Linked DNA regions of Homo sapiens: region 1 is reported to be linked to region 2. Evidence: microRNA targets listed by miRTarBase, many of them from high-throughput screens and not tested one by one. Region 2 holds a microRNA gene; the other region holds the end of a gene's coding sequence.

What was found. The annotated mature microRNA hsa-miR-4774-3p reads AUUGCCUAACAUGUGCCAGAA and lies in region 2 at 1,586-1,606, opposite strand. An mRNA with a match to its seed (bases 2 to 7 or 8) in the 3' UTR can be bound and repressed. Matches are read on the target gene's strand: a 7mer-m8 pairs with bases 2 to 8, a 7mer-A1 pairs with bases 2 to 7 and ends in A, and an 8mer does both.
Region 1: miRTarBase lists TUBGCP5 as a target of hsa-miR-4774-3p. Seed matches in the 3' UTR shown: 7mer-A1 at 2,499-2,505.

Annotation. Positions count from the first base shown.
Region 1 is chr15:22,997,018-23,000,548 of GRCh38, forward strand. It overlaps TUBGCP5 (tubulin gamma complex component 5), which reads right to left. Exons shown (of 23, transcript NM_052903.6): 23 at 2,160-2,849. The coding sequence ends at 2,803. Among named protein-coding and RNA genes, the nearest start is that of CYFIP1, 18 kb to the left of the region's middle.
Region 2 is chr2:168,581,595-168,584,594 of GRCh38, reverse strand. MIR4774 (microRNA 4774) reads right to left here and starts at 1,652; the gene lies at 1,577-1,652. The region is part of intron 3 of CERS6 (ceramide synthase 6); the gene reads right to left.

The DNA.
Region 1 (3,531 bases), not on the chromosome of region 2:
CTGAACATAGTTACTTCTGGACACCCTGGGCAACAGTGGTTGCCTCTGGGCATGACATGGTTCCTGAAAGGGGCTAAGGGGAAATGTTCTCTCCCAGTCTGTGGCCTGTATTACCATTTTCCTAGCAATGTTTTTTGGTGATGTCCAATTCACCAATAATTCCTTTTTTTTTTTCCTTTTGAGACGGAGTCTTGCTCTGTCACCCAGGCTGGAGTGCAGTGGTGTGATCTCGGCTCACTGCAACCTCTGCCTCCCAGGTTCAAGCGATTCTCCTGTCTCAGCCTCCTGAGTAGCTGGGACTACAGGTGTGCGCCACCACGCCCGGCTGATTTTTGTATTTTTAGTAGAGACGGGGTTTCCCCATATTGGTCAGGCTGGTCTGGAACTCTTGACCTCAGGTGATCCACCCACCTTGACCTCCCAAAGTGCTGGGACTGCAGGCATGAGCCACCGTGCTCGGCCCCTTTTTTGATTTTATGTAAGAAATCTTTGTCTACCCCAAGTTTGTAGTGTTAATTTCCCATGTTTGCTTCTAGAAGCTTTCTAGTCCTAACTTCCACATTTTGTTGTTTCCAGTTCTAGCTTTCATATTTTTTTTCTTTTTCTTATTTTTTTCTGAGACAGAGTCTCGCTCTGTCGCCCAGGCTGGAGTGCAGTGGCATGATCTCAGCTCACTGCAACCTCCGGCCACCCAGGTTCAAGCAATTCTCTGGCCTCAGCCTCCTGAGTAGCTAGGATTACAGGTGTGTGCCACCACGCCCAGCTAATTTTTGTATTTTTAGTAGAGACAAGGTTTCACCACATTGGTCAGGCTGGTCTCGAACTCCTGACCTCATGATCCACCCACCTTGGCTTCCCAAAGTGCTGGGATTGCAGGCATGAGTCACTATGTGTGGCCTTTTTTTTTTTTAAAGATAGTCTCACTCTATAAAAAGAAAATATGGAAAAATTTAATAGTAAGCATAATTCTATTCAAAATATAACTGGTTAGCTCACAAAAATTGCTCAGAAATATTGCCAGGCACAGTGGCTCACGCCTGTAATCCCAGCACTTTGGGAGGCTAAGGCGGGTGGATCACCTGAGGCCAGGAGTTCGACACCAGTCTGGCCAACAAGGTGAAACCCTGTCTCTACTAAAAATACAAAAATTAGCTGGGCGTGGTGGTGCACGCCTGAGATCCCAGCTACTCGGGAGGCTGAGGCAGGAGAATCACTTGAATCCAGGAGGCAGAGGTTGTAGTGAGCCGAGATCGTGCTACTGCACTGCAGCCTAGGTAACAGAGTGAGCCTCCACATTTCAAAAAACAAGGAAATACCAAACAATAGTATGTACCAACAGTTGGCCCTAAGTGAAGTTGGCCTTTTACATTTATCGCTATCAGTTGAAGCTATTTTCCATGTAGAACTTCTCAGGCACAACAAAACATATATACATTTCTTTCTTTCTTTTTTTTTGTTGGAGACAAGGTCTTGCTCTGTTGTCCAGGCTGGAGTGCAGTGATGCAATCATGGTTCACTGCAGCCTTGACCTCCCGGTCTCAATCGATCCTCCCACCTCAGCCTCCCAAGTAGCTGGGACCACAGGCATGTGCCACCATGCTTGGCTAATTTTTTTTTTTCGGAGTCTTGCTCTGTCACCCAGGATGGAGTGCAGTGGTACAATCTAGGCTCACCGCAACCTCTGCCTCCTGGGTTCAAGTGATTCTCCTGCCTCAGCCTCCCAAGTAGCTGGGATTACAGATGTGGGCCACCACACCTGGCTAATTTTTTTGTATTTTTAGTAGAGACGGGGTTTCACCACATTGGCCAGGCTGGTCTTGAACTCCTGACCTCAGATGATCCGCCCACCTCGGCCTCCCAAAGTGCTGGGATTACAGGGGTGAGCCACCGTGCCCAGCCCTTGGCTAATTTTTAAGTTGTTTTTGGAGAGATGGGGTCTCATATGTTGCCTAGGCAGGTCTTAAACTGCTGGCCTCAAGGAATCCTCTCACCTCAGTCTTTCAAAGTGCCAGGATTACAAGCTTGAGAAACTACACCCAGCCAAAATATAAACATTTCTAGGACAGCTACATCTAAGACAACTTTTAGGGAAGACAACATGTAAAACTCTATATAAAAAGCTTCTGTGACTGTAGGACAGCAGCAAAAGGATAATAAAATGATTTTAAGTCCTTTAATTTATTTTGAATATCAGTAATTACATTTTCAAAATATGATATAATTTAAAGGTATCAGTACCATAAATCTGTATCTTACAGTAGGAAATGTAAGAGTAAACAGCCTATATACACTTTGTACTACTGACACAATTTTATGTATACAACTCTATACAGTATCTACTAATCTCCAGAAAACCCACCTACAATCCATCTGTCTGGACTGTGGGCAAGTGGTTCTTTCTGAGTCAGGGTCTCACTCTGTCACCCAGGTTGCACTGCAGTAGTGCAATCATGGCTCACTGTAGCCTTGACCTCCTGGGCTCAAGTAATCCTCCCATCTTTGCCTCCTGAGTAGCTGGGACTACAGGTACACACCACCATGTCTGGATACATTTTGTATTTTTGGTAGACACCGGGTTTCACCATGTTGCCCAGGCTGGCCTCAAACTCCTGGGCTCAAGTGATCTGCCTGTCTTGGCCTCCCATCGTGCTGGGATTAGAGGCATGAGCGACTGTGCCAGGCTGACTGTGGACAAGTTTTACAAATAAACCAAAATAAAAATATTTTCACTTTTCAGCTGCACATGGTGGAAATGTACATGTATGATGACAAAGTCGGAGATATTTATTACGCTGAAGACATTTAACTTTGTTCCATGCCAGCCATGAGTGACAACGCTAGAGATTCCACTGTGGGAAGAATAAAAATAAGGTTAAAACAATAGGTTTAAATGTTGAAAAAAAATTTTTTTTGAAGACGGAGTCCCACTGTCACCCAGGCTGGAGTGCAATGGTACAATCTCAGCTCACTGCAACCTCTGCCTCCCGGGTTCAAGCAATTTTCCTGCCTCAGCCTGCTGTGTAGCTGGGATTTCAGGCATGTGCCACCATGCCTAGCTCATTTTTGTATTTTTAGCAGAGACAGGGTTTTGCCATGTAGGCCAGGCTGGTCTTCCAACTCCTGACCTTAAGTGATTCACTCAACCTCCCAAAGGGCTGGGATTAGAGGCATGAGCCACCGCGCCAGGCCAGGAGCTTTAAATTCCTAAAAAAATTTTTAAAAAGACTAGATTTTGAAAAGAAATAGTTACAAAAACTACACGATAGTGAAGTGTGACAGAAATCTATTCTGCCATCAACTTTATTTAATAGGAGTTTTAGAAATCTGTTGTAATAAATGGTATACCAGAAAGTAAGATCCTCAGGCTTACACTCACCTCACCGTAATGCTTAAAAAGCAATTCAAAGCATGGGACAACTGCTAAGGGACTTTTCAGTTTTGAAAATGGTGAGAATTTCTAATTCTTCATGGGATCAGTAACAAAACAATGACACATACACTTAGTTACAAGGAAATACAGAGGTAGAAATA
Region 2 (3,000 bases):
TGATGTTAGGGAAAAGGTCTACAGTGAAACAGGGAAATTGTGTAAAAATAAATTAGGGAATGTGTGGCCAAATTTAGTCTCAGTGAGACCCACAGAAGCTGTGTGTATGTGCACATACAGTTTGGTCATGGCTTACTAATCATGACAGCATTATGTCTGTCTTTCTCTCTCTCACACATATTACACAAACAGATTCCACTGTGAAGTTTTTCTATGTAGATAGATATTACTGAAAAACCAACAGCAAAAGGTTTGTTAATTTCCACAGAGGGGTATCACGCAAACAGCAAAAACATGGGAATTGAGAAACCTAAAAAACATTTTTCTTTTAAAGATACAGTTTCACTGCAGCTCACTGGCAGTATTCATTATGTCTGTGACTCAGCTATAAAAAAGGAATGAGCAATACCTGCATCTTTGGAGAAAGTTAATCTTAAAAGCAGCTTTGATTACTTAGGAAATTACTTAGGAAGCATAGGCATTAGGGCCAGTCACACACAGATCCTGACTCTCACTACCTATCGTGGGTAAACTGCTTAACCTTTTGAAAATTAGGGTAAAATCATCTACCCAATGAGAGTGTTGGAAGGATTAAATAAGATGACTAAGGAAGCGATCTTGGTACATTCTAAGTATTCAGTACATGTCAGTACATGTCAGATGCTGTCATGATGGCAAAAGGCCAGGTCATGATGGCAAAAGGCCATTACAATAATCGCCAAACAGAGAATATTCACAAGGCCTCGAAAAGCAGCCAGCACAGAGTCAGCATTCATTTTATTGAATGATAGAATGAATTCCATATCCATGGATGACAAATAATGATACATCAGAGCAGGAAGGCAAATAAAATTACAGGAATAAATGGACCCTGTAGCCTTTCAACTAACTACAAACTCCAGACAACCTAGTCCTCTAAAGGTCCTGCTTCATGCTCATTATCTTCTTCTCATAGTTCAAACAACCCTGACAATATTAAGGGATGGCATTTTAAAATTATTCTCTAAAAGCCTAATGACTGGTTTGGTCTAAGACCCAGGGAGGCCACCCAAGAGGCCTGAGCTCATAGCATGTGGTTAAACTGCAATCTACTCCTCAAATTCGAAAGAGAAAGCAAATGAAAAAGAAGCAAGGAAAGCTAAAAAGATTCTGTAGTTGGCTGAAAAATGATCTATAGTTAGGCTTTGCCCCTATCCAAATCAGAGTGGGGCTGTTTCTTGAATGTCAGAACTGAAGTGTCTTCTTCTCTCACACTTTTCTTAGCTCATTTCCCAATCACTTTCTTGGTGGAGTCTCTCTTTGCCAAAAGGACATGCCCGTCAATCAACACACACTACTTATTTGTACCTGTCTCGACGCCCTCCCCATCACTATCTATTCCTACACCACACTGTCATTAGTGCATATTTCTAAGGTTCAAAATTTTACAAGATTCTTGTCCTATAAGAGCGATTTTCTGCTTAACACTACCAAATTGATCAGTCTGTGCTGTGTATATCAACCATTCCCTCAAGCCAGCCAAATTTGATTAAATGTACATTTGTCTATGCATTATTTTGTAACTGCAAGCCTTGCCTATGTTGTTTTCTGGCACATGTTAGGCAATTGTCTGTTTGTCAGTTATTACCTACTACATACCAGACAACAATATAGGCTAATCTATAGCTTTCATGTCTTTCAAAGGCCATGCCCATCAAGGCCCCTCTATACCATAACTGTACACTGTGGGTGCTTGGGAAGGATGGCTATTTCACTGGCTCACTATGAAATCACCAGCTATTTCACTAGCTCACTGTGAATCCAGGCACCTAAAGCTGTTGTATGTATGCAATTTCAGTAAACTGCAGCAGTCAAATTTGGGAATTGCACTGGACACAAGGTCAAACTGACCTTGTTTAACTTCACATCAATATTAAAATAATGCATCACGTAAAATAAAGGTGTATGAAAATTCTAGTTTTCAAAATCCTGACTGACCACATTTGAAACCTTATGTTTGCATAGCACGCGTTTTTTTTTCAGTACTAGATGATAGTTATTAAATGATTTAAGGTCTTATTAATACTTCCTTTCCCAGACACAGCAGGCTAGGCTAGTCAGACAAACCCCTTGCTCTCTATTTAAAACAACTAAACTTCTCAACTTAAAAAATATCCTTAAAAGCATCAGAGGTGACAAGATAGTAAGAAGCTCTCAGGATAAAAATCTAAGGGAAACTAGGAACCCAGAGACCTAAGTAGAACACCACAGCTCCTTCTGGCCCAAAGGCATCTCCACCATGAGTTAATCTGGGTTTCTGTTTTGGCAGCCCCTGGAGGAAAGGGGGAAGAATCTAGGCCCAGTGCCTACCTAATGTGGAGGATATTATAGAAGACACTGCGCATATTAAGCTGGGACCCCAAGATATAACATCCATAGGATGAGTGTGTGCCATACATAAACCCTACCTCTACCCCCAATTCTGGGAAACTTCAGGGATGGTTGCCTTGACACTAAGCAGAAGAAGAGAAAAAGGGAAAGGAAAATAACACCATGAGAAGTTGTGGTAAGAGACCCACAACTGTGATCATGACCAAGGTGGTTACGGTCATGGGGAGTTAGCCCAGGTGGGCCTGGGAGTCATGGTAAGTCATGTGCTTGGTCTGGGGTGATCCTGGGCTGGGGTATCGTCCATGCCGGACAGGAGCATAAGCATAAACTCTCTGAGAGAATCATCATCTTCCTAGGCCTCAAGATTCTCCCTCCTTAATATTTCCTAAGAACAAAGAGTAGTACACAATTAAGCACACAAGGAAAAACAGGTTCCATGAATCAGAATCAGAAACACACCCGCAAATACTGGAACTGTCAAATACAGATTGTAAAACAACTATGCTTCCCCTATGTAAAAAAATAAAAGACCACATAAAAAGTATCTGCAAAGAACAGGAAACTATGAAAACTGAACAAGCAGGTTTTTAAAAGATGAAACAGAACTTTTATAAATAAAAATATATATTA